Linked DNA regions of Homo sapiens. The protein of the gene in region 2 purifies or fractionates together with the protein of the main gene of each other region. This does not show direct contact. Each region holds a gene or a part of one and is shown on either strand. Other genes may lie near its edges. The genes, in order: ATP6AP2 and ACP3.

The links.
Region 1: the proteins of ACP3 (region 2) and ATP6AP2 purify together in Homo sapiens (affinity purification with mass spectrometry; 2 studies listed by BioGRID and IntAct, with this or other methods). This does not show direct contact.

What each region holds. Positions count from the first base shown.
Region 1 is NC_000023.11:40,589,370-40,598,336, forward strand, and holds part of ATP6AP2 (renin receptor precursor), read left to right. Parts: intron 1-1,864; coding exon 1,865-1,996; intron 1,997-7,879; coding exon 7,880-7,975; intron 7,976-8,157; coding exon 8,158-8,295; intron 8,296-8,967. UniProt on the Homo sapiens protein: Multifunctional protein which functions as a renin, prorenin cellular receptor and is involved in the assembly of the lysosomal proton-transporting V-type ATPase (V-ATPase) and the acidification of the endo-lysosomal system.
Region 2 is NC_000003.12:132,310,742-132,323,637, forward strand, and holds the start of ACP3 (prostatic acid phosphatase isoform PAP precursor), read left to right. Parts: upstream 1-6,665; 5' UTR 6,666-6,715; coding exon 6,716-6,835; intron 6,836-12,896. UniProt on the Homo sapiens protein: A non-specific tyrosine phosphatase that dephosphorylates a diverse number of substrates under acidic conditions (pH 4-6) including alkyl, aryl, and acyl orthophosphate monoesters and phosphorylated proteins.

The DNA.
Region 1 (8,967 bases), on a different chromosome or scaffold from region 2:
AAATAAATGAATTAATTTTTTAAAAACCCATTTGTAGTTGGGAAGATTTTGGATGAGTGCTTCAAGCTTGGCTTCTGAAACAAATCATTAGAAATCATTAACTATATAATTATTTATTCATAGTAGTGAAATTCTTTGTATATTAGAGAATGCATCTGTCCTACTCTTAATAGGATATCTACTTTCTGGTTTTTTTTTTTTAGTATAGGCGATAGATTCACTATGAATGATAAAATATATATGCATTATGCCTGAGGTTAGGAAAATAATGTGGTCAGTAGCCATGGGGCAGCCAAGGACCTTGGTTTCCTAGAATGGAGCTATGACCTGTTGTAGTAATTGGCTGCTTATGTGATTGTAGGGGGCGGGAGGGTCTAGATCCAGTCAATGTGAGAGATCGAAAGGTAAGGGCTCAGAAGAAAGGAAATACAGCTTGCTCGGTGCTATCATCTCCTTCTCTTTGTAAGTCTGGTGCTTTTGATGTGGTCTCTAGATATATATCATCAGTCACTGAAAGGAACTTTTCTCCAAATCCTGAGCACCCTTGAAAACAGAAACTCTACCTGGGAACTGCTTCACTGCCAGGCCTAAGGGCAGAGCCCCTGAGCTTTTTGTAGTCTTTGGGCAACCAAAGTGAACAGGATTGGTTGTTTACATTTAAGGATGAAATTTGTACCTAGTTATTTTTTTAGAGACAGGGTCTGGCTGTGTCACCCAAGCTGAGTTTGAGTCTGCATGACTCACTGCAGCCTCAAACTCCAGGGCCCAAGTGATCTTCCTGCCTCAGCCTCCTGCCTCAGCCTTCTGAGTAGCTAGGACTACAGATGCATGCCATCACGCCTAGCTGATTTTTTAATTTTTTGTAGAGACAGGGTCTCGCTATGTTGTCCAGGCTGGTAGGTCTTTAACTCCTGGCCTCAAGCAATCCTTTCTGCGTCAGCCTCCCAAAGTGCTGGGATTACAGGCACGAGCCACCACACCCAGCCTGTACCTAATTCTTTTTTTGTTTTGTTTTGTTTTGTTTTTTGCTACAGGGTCCCGCTCTATCACCCAAGCTAGAGTGCAGTGGCCTGATCTCGGCTTACTGCAACCTCCACCTCCCAGGTTCAAGAGATTCTCCCACCTCAGCCTCCCCGGTAGCTGGGACCACAGGCGTACAACACCATGCCCAGATCATTTTTATATTTTTTGTAGAGACAGGATTTTGCCATGTTGCTCAGGCTGGTCTTGAACTCCTGGACACAAGGAATCTACCTGCTTCAGCCTCCCAAAGTGCTGAGATGACAGGCGTGAACACCACACCTGACCATCTAGTTCTTTACAACCTTAAACTTGACTACTGATGGCTATTAAAATAACTGAGAAATAATTATTAGTAAACTAATGATAGTTACTTTTAGTAGGAATTGTTTTATTTATAAAGATCTTAGTCTAAAGAGGATGTTTTAATGACCATCTTGCTATGTCTCTGTGAAAGATAAAAGTGATGCTGTATATGAGGGCAAAAAATGATGTGGGGGAAGAAAATTTCCATGGCTACATGAAGAAAATATTTTGTGATCTGAAATTTGAAAGGTACCTATGTTTTGTTTACTTGCTTGCTTTTTTCCACAAAAGGTGTCAGATGACTTACTATTGGACTTTATTTCAAATCTGTAAAATTTTAAGAAAATGAAGAGGGTAGAAATCAGCATTCTTGATTAGGGGATTGCAACGACTGCCACAAATAAAATGTTTACTTTCCCTGTGAATTTTCCTTGTCAGTGTCATCTCAGAACCCCTTAACTCTGCTTATTAGATGTTATTGGGGAGGTGGGTTCCTGAGTTGATAATTAAGCACCGCTTTGTGCTTTTCAATGTTTAGGACCTTTCTTGGCCAGGACTCGCAGTGGGTAACCTGTTTCATCGTCCTCGGGCTACCGTCATGGTGATGGTGAAGGGAGTGAACAAACTGGCTCTACCCCCAGGCAGTGTCATTTCGTACCCTTTGGAGAATGTGAGTATTTATTATAAAAAATTAAAGGGATGCATTTTACATTTTCCCTTGTCAGCTGTCATTATGAATTGCATTCTAAACATACTTCTCTTATCTGTTTTTGATGCACAGTTTCTTTTGAAATTCTTTGACAAACACAATTTCTTTTTAAGAAAATTACATGATGATTGTAATTAACTGAGGCTTGGCTGTTCTCTGTGGATGAGAGTACTGTTTAAGATAAGAGATAGAGAAATTGCCCCACTCAGAATAGCCAGAGGCTTGAAAAAGAGAGCCACTAAAGGAGAAACCAGTTGGGGTTGTATCCTGCTACTGTTTTTTTGGCCATTGTCTTGTCATCTTCCCTGCAGGATTTTACCTCTTTTCGTGTGTAAGGACACTGGAGGCTGCTTGCTGGCTCACTTACTCCTTCACTGGCTATTCAGGCAATGTGGGTGACTGTGCTGATCTAAGAGGCCCTCCTTCCATTATAAGCATATAGAAGTGCTTGAAAGAATGTCACAAAAAACATTTTTACTAGCATAACTAAATTTGAATGCAAGAGGGGGTGATATACACAGGTGTTACATATGGATGGAAAACTCAGAAGCCATAGTGGTGAGCAGAAGCTGACGCTGAAACTGTGTTTCCTGCAGAAAGCCAGGGACTAGAAATGCTGTCAACTTGTTCTTGAAAAGCAGACTAGTAAAACTAGTAAAGCTGGCTTGCTGCCCTTGGCTGTTGGACCCAAAGAGTCCCCTGAGATAAATTAGAATTAGAATTATAGGCTTATGCTGTGCAGAGTGGTTCTTTGCAAATTCACATGACCTGCCCCATAGGGACATCTCCATAGCCAAGGGCTCCTTTGGTCAAATACGGAAGATGAGTGGAATTTACAAAGCACCTGAAGGAAAAAAAATGCCATGAGAAACAGGTGCAACAAACAGAATTCATCTCCTTAGAACTACGGAGAATAGGCCAATTTCCAAGAGATCTAAAAATACATACATTAAAATTGTGAAAAAAAGGGCCAGGCATGGTGGCTCACGCCTGTAATCCCAGCTTTGGGAGGCCAAGATGGGAGGATTGCTTGAGGCCAGGAGTTTGAGACCAGCTTGGTCAACATAGCAAGACCCTATCTCTAGGGGGAAAAAAAAAGAAAGAAAGAGAAAAAATTTGTGAAAAAAAGGAAGGAACAGAAACTATGAGGGAGTTATAAGACATTTTTGATACATGGTGCTTTAGCTGATACTTCAAAATATTTCATAATTTATATTGTGATTCTTTAACCCATGAGTTATGTAGAAGTATTTTTTCCAAATGCATGGGTTTTAAAAAAGTAATTTCTAATTTTTAAATTTCTAAGTTCACTGCATTGTAATACTGTGGTCTATGTGATGCTGAAGTTTTGGGATTTTTTTTTTTTTCAGACTTTCCTGTGGTCGAGTATAGATTATTTCCAAGTACACATGGCATACTTAGAAAAAATTACTGTGCAGTAGTCCACAAGGCAAATCTCAACAAACAATAAAGAATCAGTGTCATATAAACTAACTTCTCTGACCACAATGCAGTTAAATCTGAAAATAATAATAAAATGATATCTTAAAAGGGTATTTGGAGCCCGGCACCATGGCTCACGCCTGTAATCCCAACACTTTGAGAGGCCAAGGCGGGTGAATCACTTGAGGCGAGGAGTCCGAGACCAGCCTGGCCAACATGGCTAAACCCTGTCTCTACTGAAAATACAAAAATTAGCCAGGCGTGGTGGCACGCATCTGTAGTCCCAGCTACTCAGTGGCTGAGGCACGAGAATTACTTGAAACTGGGAGGTGGAGGTTGCAGTGAGCTGGGATTGCGCCACTGCACTCCAGCCTGGGTGACAGAGCGAGACTCCATCTGGGAAAAAAAAAAAGGTATTTGGATCAACATTTCTCCTTTCCCCATCCACCCGTCTCCCCCAGCGTCTTCTAACCATCATTCTACTCTACTTCTATGAGTTCAACTTACAAGTGAGGTCATGTAGTATTTGTCCTTCTATGCCTGGCTTACTTCACTTAACATAATGTCCTCCAGGTTTATCCATGTTGCAAATGACAGTTTCCCGCGCTTTAAAGGCTGTATAGTATTCCATTATGTTTATATACCACATTTTCTTTCTGCTTTTTTCTTTTTTTTTTGAGACAGAATCTTGCTCTGTCGCCCAGGTTGGAGTGCAGTGGCGCAATGTCATCTCACTGCAACTTCTGCCTCCTGGGTTCAAGGGATTCTGGTGTCTCAGCCTCCTGAGTAGCTGGGATTACAGGTGCATGCCACCACGCCCAGCTAATTTTTTGTATTTTTAGTAGAGATGAGGTTTCATCATGTTGGCCAGGCTGGTCTCGAACTCCTGAGCTCAGGTGATCCACCCACCTCAGCCTCCCAGTGGATCTCAGTGCTGGGATTACAGGTGTGAGCCACTGCACCCAGCTGCACATTATCTTTATCCATTCGTTTGATTATGGACACCGAGGTTGCTTCCATCCATATCTTAGAAATTGTAAATAGTGCTGCAGTGAACATGGGAGTGCAGATATCTCTTCAGCATACTGACTTCAATTGCTTTGGATATATATACCCAGAAGTGGGCTTGCTGGATCATGCTTTAGTGATCTATTGCACAAAATGGTGACTATATTAAATAATAATGCATTGTGTATTTCAAAATTGCTAAAGGAGTAGATTTTAGATACTTTTACCACAAAAAAAATATAAGTATGTGAGGTGATGGATTTGTTCATTAGCCTGATTTAATCAGTCTACTTTGTAAACTTATAACAAAACATAACATTGTACCCCATAAATATATACAGTTACTATTTGTCAGTTAAAAATAAAATAAAAAGTATTTGGAAATAGTAACAAACAGAAGATAACAACTCCTCAGATTTAAAGCATATGGAACACCCAGTAGGCAAAAGCCAGATCCACACCTACATACGGTGAAATTGAAGAGTCATCAAGGAAATGGAAAATCTTAAAAGCTGTGAGGGAGAAAAGACACTGTCATTACAAAGGAATGAGAGTAGAAGGAAAGCAAGGAAAATGTAGTGATTGTGTAGTATGAGCTAGGCTGAGTATTATTTGCATTGTCATAATAATGAAATGATGCTGATCAAGTGAAAATTTTGATATAACTATTGGGTAAGAGTGGGGAGATAGAAACAGAAGCAGAGCGCATGGATGGCTCAGCGCATGGATGGGGCAGTGGTTGGTGATGTGAGAGAGCTAAAGCCTCATTTTCTATAATGGATAGTAAATAGACAAGACCTAAAATTGAAAAATCAGGAGATGTAATTTAAGTGTCTTATTTAGAGATGTTAAAAGCAAAAAAAGTCAACAAGAAAAGATAGTTGGAATAGATGCACTCCTAAATAATTCATGGGTTGAGGAGGAAATCACTGTGGAACTTTTTAAATTATTTGGAACTGAGTAACAATGAATGTAGCATTTATTTACAAAATTGGGAGGTGCAGCTAACGTGGTAAGAAAAGGGAAATTTATAGCCTTAAATGCATGTTTTAGACAATTTAGGTTGTCTAAGAATGGAAATTAATGAGCTAAAGAAAGCGGAAGAACTTCAGAGTAAATACACATAAAGTAGAAGGAAGGGAACAATACAGATCAAAAGGCAGATTATTTCACAGGGAGCATTTAAGTCATTTTTTATGTGATTTCTGTGAAAATCATTGCAGAAGATTTTCTTTAAAATTATAAAAATCCAAAATGCCATTTTGAGATTTTTATTAGCATGTAATCCAAAAATAAAGATTTAAAAACAGACTAGCCTCATTTTACATGAGAAGAAGCTGTGCTGTGTGAGGAGCTCATTTTATTGCTTGGCCCTGGTTGGCTGCTCAATGCTTTTCCTAGCAGAAGATGGTAAATGAGATAAAAGATTCAGGGGCAAACCCCACAAAACATAAAAATCAGAGTATCTTAGAATTCCATTTAACGAAGCTTCCATTTGATTAGCTAGCTGTTTTAGTTAGAATTTCAAGTCATACAGGTACAGAAATTTGAGGACAGATATGCATCTCCCTTACAATACAGTGAGAGAAAAACCATCATTCGATATTAAGCAGCCAAGCTTTTTACTTTTTGAGCTTAGCTGCCTATATAATTATTTCTTTTCCTTCATTGGTGTTCATTTGATTCATGAGCTGCTTCAATTTGATCGCTATGGACATGGTTCCTAATCTTCAACTTTCCTGAACCGAGCGCCATTTCACTAAGTGAAGTGAGGCTGGAAAGTTTGCATCATTTGCTCATGTATTCCCCTCACAGCCTGAGGAGGTAAACTCTATGATCGCTAAAGGAAAGCACCTATAGATGATTCAGGGCGGCTGCTAGCAGTATGCTTTTGCAACTTTGAACTCTCTTCCCCCTCTTCACTTACTCATTAACTCATTTTGAGAGAATTTGGGGAAGAGTTAATAAGCATCTTGAGTAAGAGAAAAAAATTATTTCATTTCACAGAATCATAAAATTGATCACTTAATATTGATGCTGGGCCTGGGCATGGTGGCTCACGCCTGTAATCCCAGCACTTTGAGAGGCCAAGGCAGGCAGATCACATCAGGCCAGGAGTTTGAGACTAGCATGGCCAACTTGATGAAACCCCGTCTCTACTAAAAATACAAAAATTAGCCAGGCGTGGTGGTGCGTGCCTGTAATCCCAGCTATTCAGGAGGCTGAGGCAGGAGAATCACTTGTACCTGGGAGGTGGAGGCTGCACTGAGCCGAGATCGCGCCACTGTACTCCAGCCTGGGCAACAGAGTGAGGCTCTGTCTCAAAAAAAAAAAAATGTGATGCTGGGATTTTATCAGTAAGACATAATCACATTGATTTCTGCCTGTATCATATTAGCGTTACTTTGCTACTTGTAAACATGAATCTTTAAGTAGTAAGGGAACTACTGAATGAAAGATCAATGTAAGAAATCTCCATTAAAACAAAAACATGACTGTACTGCTTGTTTTAATACAGTAATACTGGGAATGAAATAATTTTTTTAGGGGAAAAATAACTGTAATTTATTTTTTTAAATCATGTACTGCAAAACAAATCTATGGGGATAGAAGTCAGAATTTTTGTTACCCTTGAGGGTGGAGGTAGTACTTCGAGGGCGCTGATAGTGTTCTGTGTCGATCTGGCTGGGCTACCTGAGTGCATGCATGTGTAAACATTTGTTGAGCTGTTACCCCAAGATTTGTATACTATATTATATGTATTTTGCACTTTAATAAAAAAATTGAAGGAAAAAAGTAGGTCTTATCACCATTGGTTATTTCAATCTAATAATATCAACATGTCCTAAGATAAAGGCTTCAAAAACCTTGTGACATACTTAACACCTTATCTAAGAGTCTTTAGGCTATCTGAAGACAAATGTTAAATCTCATTAAACATTTTTAAAATTTTGAAATGAAAGATGAATTCCATTTTTATTTCAATTAAATTCAATACTCAGATTCCTCTAACCTCTTAAATGCAAATTAAATACTTTATTGTGGAATATGCATTCATCGTGGCACATTTAGTCAATATTGAAACCAAATGTATTGCTGCTTCAAATACATGAATGACCACCAGAAAATGGTTTGTGCTAGATATAGTGTTGTGTCCATCAGGTTTAAGTTATTTTCCACTGAGGCATGATGGGAGATACAGACTTGGCTTACCAGGGGGCTGTTTAATCTTCTGTGCCCTCAAAAGGGCTTGTTTGGAAATGATTTCGGGCTTCTAAATTTCCATAGAAAGTGCTGGAAAAAAGTTTAAGGCTTCTTTTTAAATACCATCTGAATGATTTTTCTTCCCACTTTGGTTCACATAATAATTGCGTTCTTACTCTTAAATTTCAGGCAGTTCCTTTTAGTCTTGACAGTGTTGCAAATTCCATTCACTCCTTATTTTCTGAGGAAACTCCTGTTGTTTTGCAGTTGGCTCCCAGTGAGGAAGTAAGTGATAAGGGTTTTATTCAAGACATTTTAAAAAATAAGCTTTTATTATTTGAAAATTATGAAATGTAATTTTATTATGAAAATATAAAACTAATTTATGAACAATGTTGTCATACCTCTGGGTATTGGAACTAATCTGTAGAATTTGAGCAACTTAAAATTTTCTATTCTTCTTACAGAGAGTGTATATGGTAGGGAAGGCAAACTCAGTGTTTGAAGACCTTTCAGTCACCTTGCGCCAGCTCCGTAATCGCCTGTTTCAAGAAAACTCTGTTCTCAGTTCACTCCCCCTCAATTCTCTGAGTAGGAACAATGAAGTAAGTGCAGTTATTCAATGAATACATGAATATCATTAATTTCCGTCTTTTTAAAAAATAGAGACAGGGTCTCACTCTGTTGTCCAGGCTGGTCTTGAACTCCTGGCCTCAAGCAATCCTGTCTTGGCCTCCCAAAGTGCTGGGATCACAGGCTTGAGCCACTGCATCTGGCCTCCCATTCCTTATACTACTTGAAATTTTGGAAATTTTGCTATTTTAGAAAATGAAAGATTGTGCACATTTACTGCTGGGGTAGATTCTTCTTTAGTGTAATTTTCTTATGACTCTCATGAATAAACTGATCCTTTTTGTGAGTTGAGCTGTGGTAAATAACATCACATTTTAGCACGAGGGTTGCCACCTATTAATTCAAACAAGCCAGAGGTCATAGATCTACTTGGTGACTGGTGGAGCTGTGTGGATCTGGTAACTTGGAAGCCATTGTTCACTGCCTCTGCTGATTTGTTGCCACATTTTTCTCATTCATTCTGGACATTGCAGTGGAGGGAGCCACCTCTACTTTTGACTCCTGTCCTTCAGTTTCTCCATCTGCTCATGCGCCCTCTTAACCATGTGGCATGCCACTTTCGTGGTGGCCTCCCCTTTTTATTTGCTGTGGATGACCAGGGCCATCATCCTTTATTCTCTGATGTGGAAACTATTCAAGGGAAG
Region 2 (12,896 bases):
CCTGGTTTGATTTAAGAAGTTCTTAAGGACAAACAGGACTTTCTAAATAGTTATTGTGTTTTCTTGTACTTTCATGCTACTACAAGAAGTTATCTGTTTAATATAAGACATATCAAACAAAAGCGGAGAGGGACAGGGTCAGAAACTGGAGCAGAAGATAGAAAAAGTTCTCTCTTCAATGGCTTAGAAGTTGGCCCATGTGAAGACAGGTGAACAGTGTTATGAAGCGAATTGCTTTCTAGGCCTACCTTCTATAACTCTGATACTCACTCAAATGAGAATTATCATGAAGTTAATGCTAGATATTTTACAATTTGTTTTCTGATTTTAATTAAAATATCTATTCATTATAAGACATTTGGAAAGTAGAGAAAAGTAGAAGAAAGAAAATGAAAACACATATAATCCCATCAACCCCCCAAAAAAATCACCATTAAAAATATTGGCCCATCTCTATTCTGTCTTTTCTTTGATACACATTTATACAAAATGAGATTACATCATATTTTTGTAAGTTCATTCTGTAAGCCTGTATTAAAGGTGAAATAGTAATAGGCCAATGTTTGCCTCCTGACTGTGAGAAAAGCAGCTTTGTTACACACATGAAGCATGAGGGGGCTAGCTCTATGCAAGTAATGACAGTCCGAGGAGTAGCTAGAGGTCAGCTCTGTTCAGTCTAAAAGACAAAAAGTCCTGAGTCCCATTCAGTCCTGAGTGCCTCAGTACAGTCAGCCAAAGCTGGATTCACCTCACCCAAGCCTGCATTTCCTCGTAGAGAGAATCAGAGAAAGTTAGATCATTTCATCTCAAAAGGAAAAAGTATGTTATCTCCAGCTTCCAATTCTTAGAGTCACGGCTGGGAATTAGTGTGAGGTGAGTGAGGCATTCTCCTTGGGCTCAACACTTAAGGTGTACCAAAAACCTATAATCAAAAGAAGGAATATTTTAATGCAAAATTTTGAAAAATAAAAATTAATGTTAAACAATCCATAATAAACAACATATCAAAATTTTATGTAATGACAGGATTGGTTTAATGATTTTTGCCTTTTGCCTTAGGCACCATTAAGTATTAGTGGGACATCATTCCTCATCTTACCTGAACCCACTGAATCAGAATTTCCAGGAGTGAGGCCCAGGAGAAGTCTGTTTTTTATTAAACTCTTTGGGTAATCCTTACACATGATAAATTTTATGAAGTCCTGGAAAGATGATCTCTGAAGTTTCTCTGTTGCCTTAGTTTGCATGTTCTGATGACTCAAACAGCCCTCTTGGAGGGGCCCAAGTAGCAAGGAATTGAAGGCAGCTTCTACGCAGCAGCCAGCAATTTAGGAACTGGGGCCCCCAAACAGCTTGCAAGGAACTGATTCCTGCCAACAACCACAGGAGCTGGGACAGGATCCCAGGCCTGGCTAACACCTTGATTGGAGCCTTGTGAAAAATCCTGAGCAAAAAGGCCTTTTACGTTATACTTAGACTCCTGATTCAGGAAAAAGGTAAGATAAGAAATGTGTGTTGTTTTAAGCCACTAAGTTTGTGTTCATTTGTTTCACAGCAATAGATAATTTTAATACTCTAAGTTTATATATATATATAAATTATATTTTATAATTAATATTAATTTTATTCAGTAATGTTTAAACTGGTTCAACCATGGACTCCATCAGTATTACAAGTAATAGATATGTGTTCATTTATTAAGGATATACTTCTATTGCCATGCTTATATTAAATATTGGAATATTTATTTTGTGGTAAATTATTTAGATAACAGCTTTATTGAAATATAATTCAGATGTCATAAAATTCATTCATTTAAAGTGTACAATTCAATAGTTTTTAGTATAGTCAGAGTTGTGCAAGTATCATTACAATCAATTTTAGACTATTTTTAGCAGCCCAAAAAGAGACCACATACCCCTCAGCCATCATCACCCTCCGCCTCCTTTCTCCGTGTCCTAAGCAATCTTTAAAAAATCTTAGGCTGTTTCCTAAGATCTTTCTATTCTGAACATTTAATACAAGTGGAATCATACAAATATGTGTTCTATTTTAGAAGGAATATCAACCTAATATTTTAAAGGTTCATCCATGTTGTAGCAGGTATCAGTACTTGGATCTTTTTTTAATGGCCAAATAATAGCCCATTTTAAAACAGTCCATTGTGAATAAATTTCCATTGTAAATCTTTTTTTTCTTTCTTAGGTAAAAAAATAAACAGAAATAAAAGTTTTAACACTTTCTTTACTTTTTAAAGTGTTAGACCATTGCATGAATCCCCTAGGTACACACACCTTAGTTGATGACATTCTTATGATACAGTCTTTGGTTTTATGGGGGATGTTTGTCTAAATACTAAACAATAAAATAGTTATTTTATGCCGAGGGCAAAAAGGCCCTCCACAAAATGATGGTTTGAGAAGAGGAGAACATTTATTCTAAAGCCATCTTATTAAATTTTGCCTCAAAGCAATTCACATTGTAACAGGGCTCTGATGCAGTCATTTGCATTTATATTGACAGTTGGTCAATCAGTATTATTGAGTACCCAATAGTTCATAAGGCCCTGAGAGTCAAATAATACAATTATGAAGGCCATAAGAAGCCAGACAGGTTAAACACAGTCTTCCTTGTGATGCTGGTGAACAGCCATATACTTACTGATGGATCTCACCTCCCAACTCAGACTCTTATGGTCAGAGGCATATTTAGTGCTTTCATAGGCTGTGATCTACTAAGGATCACAATTTTTTTCCTATAAGTGTTCATCATCATAGATTCTGTGTTACACTGCCCAAGGATTCATTGCTCCTAGCTCTTGGAAATTTGTTTGACATCACTCAGCTAGCAACCCCTTTGGGAATTATTTTGGCAGAAGAGAGTCACCTTTGCCTTATCCATGGTCATACTCCCTACCAGGGGCAGACTACGTCCAATGACTGGCTAATAAAAAAGGCCTGGCTCCTCACCTCAATTCAAGACAACCCTGAAAGGCCCTCCTATCTTCAGAACTTGTAACAGGGTCAGCTGACATCTTCAACAATATTGCATTACAAATCAACTTCTCCCTCTGCCCAACCTTGGTTATTTCTCTACCCACCACTGGAGTTAATCCTGAGTGCACTCCTTAATAAACTTCCTACATGCAAATATCTATCTGGGAGTCTGATTTTCAAAAATCCTAACCTGCTCCACTTATGGAACTTTCTAACTGTTCATTAGAACAGTTCATTTGAGGTTGAGCACTTGACATATAGAGAAAGAAGTACAACAAGAGAACACAAGTGATTCAGTCAGTAAGTCCTACTAATCATGGAAAATTATTGACACCCTAAACTCTTACATAAAGACTTCCCAGTGTTTTTTCAAATCTCACTTTTGATGTTACTATGATATGATTTGGCAGTGTCCCCACAAAAATCTCATCTTGAATTGTAACTCCCATAATCCCCACATGTCATGAAAGGTACCTGGTGGGAAGTAATTGAATCGTGGAGGAGGGCTTTTCCCATGCTATTCTTGTGACAGTGATTAAGTCTCATGAAATCTGATGGTTTTATAAAGGGCAGTTTCCCTGCACACACTCTCTTGCCTGCTGCCATGTAAGATGTGCCTTTGCTTCTCCTTCACCTTCCATCATGATTGTGAGGCCTCCCCAGCCATGTGGAACTTTGAGTCCATTAAATTTATTTTTCTTTATAAATTACCCAGTCTTAGGTATTTCTTCAAAGCAGTATGAACGTGGACTAATACATACTATATCCATATATTTATCCCAGATGACCCTTATGTCTTTGCAAAGACCTTATTGAGTTCAAAGTTCAAGGTGCCACAGAACATTCTAAAACAGGTTTCATCTGAGTTGAGGATCTTTTACACTCCATTTCATGGTGTTCAGGTTTTTCAAGACTCTACATTTATGACTTTGAATACTTCTTCTCCCCTTATAACTGAATGATCAAAGTGGAAGTGAGGATGATGATTGAGATAGAAGTATAAACCATTTAATTCAACTTGGATTAAGTTTGAGTTGAGATGTATTCAATTCAAGCAGGCTTTTTCTGGTTTTCAAAGAAAACTTTGTTGTTGTTGCCCTTCTCACTTGAAGAGCTAAAAGGACCCCACAGGCGGTACCACAGAAAAAATTAGGGTCTAGGTCAGAAAGAGGGTTTATCCAACCAGTGCAACATGGTATAGGTAGATTATAAAATCAGTCTTCATTATCAGGAAGGTCTAAGGCTATTGCTGAAATAGTTCCAAGCACCAGTCCAAGGGTGAGACAAGGAAGGAGATAGAACAAGGACCCAGGCAGATAGCTGAGAAAATAAGGCATTCAATAGAAGCAGACATCTGGCACAATTTAAGAAATGTGGTTCAGAAATTTGCCTGTGAATGGTACATAGGTGCTGGAGCTTCCTTTCTCAGATTGCCTGGTGCACACAGCAGGGATTAATGTATCAACTTCATGTATGCCCTGGACTGGAAAACCTCCCAATTTTTATTTCCTTTTTCTTGCACCCATTTCCTCAAAATCTTACTCATTAAAATTGACAGTGTAGACTGGCAGGTCGAGAATGTGATGGCAAAGAGAAAGTTGCAAGTTCCCTTGAATGGTTAATCCTAATCACACATGCATTTATTATTTGCACATTTTTTTTTTTTTTTGGAGGGGGGACAGAGTCTCACTCTATTGCCCAGGCTAGAGTGCAGTGGTGTGATCTCAGCTCACTGCAACCTCAGCCTCCCGGATTCAAGTGATTCTCCTGCCCCAGCCTCCCAGGTAGCTGGGATTACAGGCTCCCACCACCACACCTGGCTAATTTTTGTATTTTTAGTAGATATGGGGTTTCACCACATTGACCAGGCTGGTCTCGAACTCCTGATCTCAAGTGATCTGCCCACCTCAGCCTCCCAAAGTGGTGGGATTACAGGCGTGAGCCACCATGCCCAGCCTATTTGCGCATGTTTCCTACTGCCGGAAGAAGGAACAGTTCTCCCATATACCACATTCCAGGGCATCCTATGATCACATAAGAACACAATCCTCCTGCCACAGGTAAGCGCAATGTACCAGGAAACAGGTTGCGGGTAAACCATTGTTCTCCCTCTGCCATTATGATAGAAATATCATGACAGGCAGCTCTGCCCCCAAATCTTGCAAAATCTCAATGTGCACCTCAAGTTTGTATTGTTTTAGCCTATGATGGAACTGACAGGTTGGGGAAAATGGAAAGCAAAGTTCCATCAGTCTGGATCGCCTTTTGTAGTGTCCCCAGTGAGATCATAGCTGGAGAGGCAAGGATGTAACTCACTCAAAATTTAAGGCTTATGGCCAAAGTTGATGACTAATAATATAGAATTGTAGGTTTGGGCTTTTTGCTTTCTTAAAAAACTCTGTCAGGTTTGGAAAGGGACCTCCAATCTAATTTTGAGATACCACAGGTAATGTCCAATTGTCTTAAGGTGTGACTAAAATTTTTCTTTTGTTTGTTTTTTGTTGTTGTTTGTTTGTTTTGCTGTGTTTTGAGATGGAGTCTTGCTCTGTCACTCAGGCTGGAGTGCAGTGGCACAATCTCGGCTCACTGCAACCTCCACCTCCTGGGTTCAAGTGACTCTCCTGCCTCGCCTCCCAGGTAGCTGGGACTATAGGCATGTGCCACCACGCCAGGCTAATTTTTTTTTTTTGTATTTTTAGTAGAGATGGGGTTTCACCATGCTGGCCAGGCTGGTCTTAACTCCTGACCTCAAGTGATCTGCCCACCTCGGCCTCCCAAAGTGCTGGGATTACAGACATGAGCCACCACGCCCAGCCTAAAATTTTTCAAAATAAACTTGCTGTTACTTTTCTTCTTTAATTTAAAAATACCTCTATAGGCTACATGAGAGTTTTTGAAAAAGTAGCCATGTTTGGCATGGAAATAGGCCCCAAATATGTCAACACCTGTATTTCCTTCCAGATTTCAGTCCTATAACTTTGGACTCCCAACAGATTAAGAATCACTGGTCTAAGGTTTCTAAAGTCAGGGTAGATCCCTTTCCCAAGTGACAGCCACAAATCCAACGCTGTATCATACCCTATCTAAAGAAAAGATAAAAGTAAACTGGCTTGGCACAGTGGCTCATGCCTGTAATCTCAGCACTTTGGGAGGCCAAGGCAGGCGGATCATGCGGTTAGGAGTTGGAGACCAGCCTAACCAACATGGTGAAACCCCGTCTCTACTAAAAATACAAAAATTCGCCGGGTGTGGTGGTGCACGCCTGTAATCCCAGCTACTCAGGAAGACTGAAGCAGGAGAATTGCTTGAACCTGGGAGGCGGAGTTTGCAGTGAGCTGAGATTGTGCCACTGTGCTCCAGCCTGGATGACAGAGCAAGACTCTGTCTCAAAAAAAAAAAAACAAAAAACAAAGATAAAAGTAAACTGAAAACAAGGATAGAAATGTCTGCTAACATGCTCTGTGACCTTGATCAACAGCTTTCCCCGCTCTTGGCCTTGGTGTCCTAACTTAAATGGGGAAACTGTGATCTCTCTCAGCTCAAAATTTACATGACATTATTTACATACCAAACCTGCCCTACGCTTCCTGGAAACTTTACTACTTATGAGTGTGGCTCCTCCTTCCCTTTCAATCCCTTAATTAAATAGCTTCCCCTCTACAGGCTTTTGAAGTGGTAGCAGTTCCTCCTAACTCCTGCCAGAAACAGCTCTCCTCAACATGAGAGCTGCACCCCTCCTCCTGGCCAGGGCAGCAAGCCTTAGCCTTGGCTTCTTGTTTCTGCTTTTTTTCTGGCTAGACCGAAGTGTACTAGCCAAGGAGTTGAAGTTTGTGACTTTGGTAAGTAGACTTTTCTCATTGCTTTTTCCTTAAAACTGTGTTCCCAGCAAAGTCTGATAAGGCAAGCGTCAGGTTTCATCTTATCCTTGGATTGTTTCCCAGAGACCAGGCTCTGTTCAAACTCAGAAAGTGAATAATCAAGTTTTGCAAGTTCCTCTTAATGAAGACCTAACGTGTCCTAACAAAAATATTTTTTGGTCGCTGTTTTTTTAGGGGTTGCTTTTTATTTGCTTTTGCTGATGTTATTTATTTACTTACTTTACAACTGCCTTGAATTCAGATTCCTTTTGACAGCCACACCAGTCCAGAAGAAACCACAGCTGGCGCTGTTTATGTACCAAGAGCTGGCTTCATTCAATTTAATCATTATTTGTTTGCAAGCCAAAAAACAGTCATTTTCTGAATTAAGTAGTCCTTTCACCTTTGTTTATCAGGAAATTAGAACAACTATTTGTAAACAACCTTGAAGCATAAAAGTGAATCTAAATTTGGAATTTTAGGATGATTTTCTGATATATAGATTTAGTTGACGATTAAAATCATTGGCACATGTGACCAGTTATGAAAAAAGGTGGGGGGTGGCTGATGCATAATATCAAGAAAAGAAAATATACTGTTGACATTGTTTGAAAATAGATGGAAAGAGGGTTTGCAAAGTGAAGGGGATTCATCATGTTACCTAAGAGTCTGATTTTCTGTTTCTGTATCTTTTTTTCCTTCTGTTTCACTCTTTCTCTGCCTCTAAGCCTCTAAGCTGCTTCTTGCCTTTCCTCTCTCGTTTTCTTTCTCTTCCCTACATTTTTTTATTTGAGATAGTGAAAGTGGGCTGATAAGTAGGTAAATTTTCTTTCTGTCAAGAATACTCAAAAATTATTTTTATAATTTGAAGGAAAGTCACTGTTTCCTTAAAAATTAAAGTTCAGGCTTTTTTTTTTTTCAGCATGGGATATTCAAAGCTCTTTACTTTCTACAGAAAATATGATACCCATGTGCTTATTTGAATCATTATTCTTATAGTCCAGTAAATCCTTACTAGGTCATGAGTCAACAATGACAGAAAACCCAGTGAAACAAACTATCAATTTATTTACAAATGATTCACCAGCTGTCAGACTTCTGTGCAGAAAAAAAATATATAATACTGTGTGCCTTCTTTAGGGAAACCCATGTGAGCTAGGCTTGTACTTCTATCAGTAGTTTTCTTGCTAACATGTGCATGAGGCAAGTTTAGGGACTGTAGAAATTGTACTGCATCTGCCGTGCTTGTAATACTGTAAACCTGTGACAAGCTGGTTGAGTGGCAGTCCTCTGAGAAATCCAAGTTACTCCAAGCTCACTGTACATGATGTATTCCCTCCTCCATGTTTTACCCAAGTTAGCCCAGGCTAACTTCCTTTGACTACCAAATTGTTGTGGGTTTCCTATATTCAGGGACTGCAAGTTAATTCTTTCCTGAGGAAAGCCAAAATACAAAGCTAGCTCTCTTAGAACTAAAAAAATTAACAAATATTGCACAAAGCCAGTGTTAACTATTTTTTCCTACCATGATTTCCTTCCATTAATGGTAGATGAAGGGCCATTTAATACATCTTTCTTGGCCCTTATAAAACAACGTCCATCTAAGTACTTAAGCCAATAAACATCAGTTTCTTATTTTTATTGACTAAAGAGAATATTTGACTATAAGTGGTTAATTTATACAAATGAGATAACTCTTAGAAAATTATTAGGAGAACCAGAATTGTTTTAAAAGATGCCCATAACTAAAGTGGTAATATTAATGATAATAACCAATAGTCAATTGAGTGCTTACTGCAAGTACTTACTGCAATTGAGTGCTTACAAGGCACTGTTCTGAGTGTTCAATATGAATTGTATCACATAAGCCTGTCAACAATCCTCTAAAATAAGGTCGTTAAATAAAATATGGGATGACCATTTGAATTTGAACTTCAGATAAATAGCAAATAATTTTTTAGTCCCATGCAATATTTGGGCATCCTGTATGTTTATTTGCCAAATCTGGCAACCATTCTATAAAGTTTTGTAAAACTTATTATTCCTATTTTATAGATGAAGAAATTGAGGCACAAAAAGGTTAAGCATCTTGCCCATGGTCACACAGATGGAATGGTGGAGACAGAATTTGAACCCAGGCTCTCTGACCCCGGATGCCTTTCCCTTTATCACTAGACATGGTCTTTTCCTGCTGTGTGTATATAACCCAGCACATGGAGCTAGTCTGAGATCCCCCTGTAAGGTTTGCTGGATTAGCTTGACTCTGAATCAGCAGGTGGTTCCCTTGCTTTTCCTCTGTGATCCGAGAAAAATAAATCCTCCCCAATTCTGAAAAGCTGTTCTCAGCAGAAAGAGGAGGAAACTGTCCTTGGTTCTTGTTCTCGGACTAACTGAAGTGCCTGTGACCCATGAAATGCTAGTTTGACAAGTTGTTAACAGGTGTACATGGGGAAAAAATCAGTTTCAATAGTCAAGTTAGCTTTGGGAATAGAACTGGGTTAAACTGTGTTTAAAAGGTCTCTTTAATGCAGTAATCCTAAGTCTTTAACATGCTAATACGCACTGTGGCTTTCAAGGAAAGGATCTAGTGTTTTCCAAACTCTGTTTTCAAAATTTTGATTACAGCATTCACCTCCCTCTTTTTTTCCCCAATGTCCTGTAGAAAACACTGAGAGAACTGACATTTTTAACTTTATATGGAAAGAATCGTAAATATGGTGAATCTGGATGTCCTCATCAACCAGCTTCAAAGACTATCACCCATGCAATCTTGTTTCATCTGCATAGCCACTCATTTCCCACACACACCCACTTGAGTTTTTTAAGTTATTTCATGCACCATATCATCCAGAAATAGAAAAATGTCATTTTAAAGCATCCTGTCTCCCCTAACCCAGAGAAAACCCACAAGTTCAGCTGATCCAAGACAGAAAAATTCCATCTCATTTCACCGGTGTTAAGAAAGGAATGATGACTTACAAGGTATACACTCTTCTCATTCTTCATGGTTGACTTTCTTCATGCAGAATTCTTAATCAAGTAATATAATATTCTTGGGTTTTTTTTTTTTTTTTGAGACAGAGTCTTACTCTGTCGCCCAGGCTGGAGTGCAATGGCGTGATCTTGGCTCACTGCAACCTCCGTCTCCCAGGTTCAAGTGATTCTCCAGTCTCAGCCTCCCAAGTAGCTGGGATTACAGGCGTGTGCCACCATGCCTGGCTAGTTTTTGTATTTTTAATAGAGACTGGGTTTCACCACGTTGGCCAGGCTGGTCTTGAACTCTTGACCTCAGGTGATCCACCAGCCTTGGCCTCCCAAAGGGCTGAGATTACAGGCGTGAGCCACTGCGCCTGGCATAATATGATATTCTTGATGGAAGCAGCCTCCAAATTCTCAGCACATAATCTATATACTGGAATGGGTAACTTCCACATTATGGACATGAAGGACCTCCTAGCTACTAGGGAAGGTGGAGCTAGAGGATCACTTGAGCACAGCAGTGTGAGGCCACATTGAGCTAGGATCACACCATTGCACTCCAGCCTGGACAACAGGGAAAAACCCTGTCGCTTGGGTTGGCTTATAAAAAGAGGTACCAGAGGCTGGGTGCAGCAACTCACACCTGTAATCCCAGCACTTTGGAAAGCCGAAACAGAAGGATTGCTTGAGGCCAGGAGTGCAAGACTCCAGGCTGGTTAACATAGTAAGACCTCATCTCTGCAAAAAAGAAAAAAAAAAAAGATGGACCAGATAAAATTCCACTGAAAAGCAAAAATCAGGTCTCCTGCCTCAGTTCACAAACAACCTTACATACAATCTCTCTCCCTTGCTGTATGGCTCCTAATCACTGTATCCAAGGAACAGCCAAGCTGTCTGGAGACCACAGGTTTTTCAAAGACATTTGCCGGAAACAGCACCGTGCGCTGAGAGTTGGTACTGAGCCAGGCTCAGTTCAGTTTGCTTACATGAGCTTCTCCCCAGATTTATGCCAATGCATTTCACAAATTTTCAGGGTGCATTTGGCCAAGACATTTCAGCCAACCAGGTTATTCCTGTGGGTGCTTCTCAGTATCCTAAATGCAAAGGAATAATTAATTATTCCTCTCAGCCAAGGAAATAAAAGTAGGGAGAGATGATTAGAAATTAACAGAGGTATGTCTCGAAGGAGAGTGCTGTTTCCCATTGCTCAATAGGTAGTGCTCATTTGCCCTATATGCTGCAAATTATTGTCAGCAGGAAAGGAAGTATATATGTTAGCTAAGCTAAATGTCTGAATAATATAACAACAAAAATAATTATAACAAATATAATAATAAATCCCACATATCAAATGCATCCGGTGTGCTCGGTATTATACTGATGGCTTTACATATATTACACATTTAATTTTCATGATGCTCCTGGATGAGAAATAATGCTTTTGTGTTTTACACGAAAGGAAATTGAGGAAAGGAAAGGGAAATTGAGGCATGCAGAATGTTAAGTTAAATCATTTTCCCAAGGTCACCCAGCAGGACCTTGACAAAGCAGGAGTTTGAACCCAGGTCTAACCAACTGAAAACCCAGACCTTTTCTGATATATCACACATCTTCTACACAACATAATACACAGTTTTTACAGCTTCCCTTATTTGCAGGCCTCTGTGTTCGTCCCAGTCTCTGGATCAAAGTCTTATTAGACTTGTCCTGATTGCTTCACGGGGAGTACAGAACATATTCTCATGCTGATTCCTTTCAAGGTCAGCCAGCTTTCCTTCTAACCTCTGAAATGACACTCATTTACATTACTCAATTATTTCTGCCCAAACTATTTTATTTTTAATTTTCTTTACCAATGGATTTATTTCTTAGGTCCTAAAAGAAGAAAATAAAATAGACTTCTACTCATAGTTATCTTTGTGCATCACGAGATTTTCACAACTTAGAGTATACCCTAATAAAATAATAAGAAGAATTTAATGTCAGGAGATAAGGTTCCTTTTAGGACTTCCAGAATCACCCCAAAGTTTTATGATGTGTCTCCAATTCCAAACCTGAAAGGAGAACATGATGGTTTATGAGACTTCAATCCAGTCTGGAAGCAGACTCACTGTTCTAGAAGCAAAGGCACAAATGAATAGGATAGAGACTGCTACAATTTGAATGTTTGTCCCCTCCAAAACTCATGTTGAAACTTAATCCCAATGTAACAGCCTTAAGAGGTGGGGCCTTTAAGAGGTGATTGGGCCATGGGGGCTCTACTCTCCTGATGGATTAATGGATTAACAGATTAATGGATTAATAGGTTATCACAGAAGTGGGTGAGTTATCATGTCAGTGAGTCTATCATAAAAACCATTTTGGCTCTCAGTGTGCCCCTTCTTGTCCTGTCATGCCTTCTGCCATGTTATGACACAGCACAAGGCCCTCACCAGAAGCTGACTAGATGCAGCTGCCTGATCTTGGACTTCCTAACCTCTAGAATTGTGAGCAAAATAAACCTCTTTCCTTTATAAATTTCCCAGTCTCAGGTATTCTGTTAAAGCAACAGAAAATGGGCTAAGACAGAGGGGAAAGACAAGAAGATGAAAGAAAGGAAAAAAAAAAAGCACACATAGCACACCTTGCTGATAAATAAGGATGATGATCAAAAACCCTCATGAAATGAGAAGATTGGAAAGAAATCCATAATGTACCTGGAAGTACTAGACCCAATCCGAGATTCACCTGTTCATCAGAACAGGCCTTTTTTGCATATTACTATGTTCCAGGCACTGTTTTGGGGTTATAGCAGTGCTTGTGACAGCAAGGCTTCTGCTTTCAAGGAGTTTCTAGGGACAGGGAGGGAGCCAGATTTTTTTTAATTTTAGTAAAAACAAAAAATAAGAAAACATCAGGAATATTTATTTGAAATAAAACAGTGAGATAAGATAGAGATTGAGCAAGAATTATAATGATGGTCAAGGGATGTCTCTCTGTAAAGGTCAAATTTTCAGGACAGACCTCAAATTGATGAGTGGTGTGTATGCTGAGAGAAGACGCAGACTTGAGACATTCAAAGCAG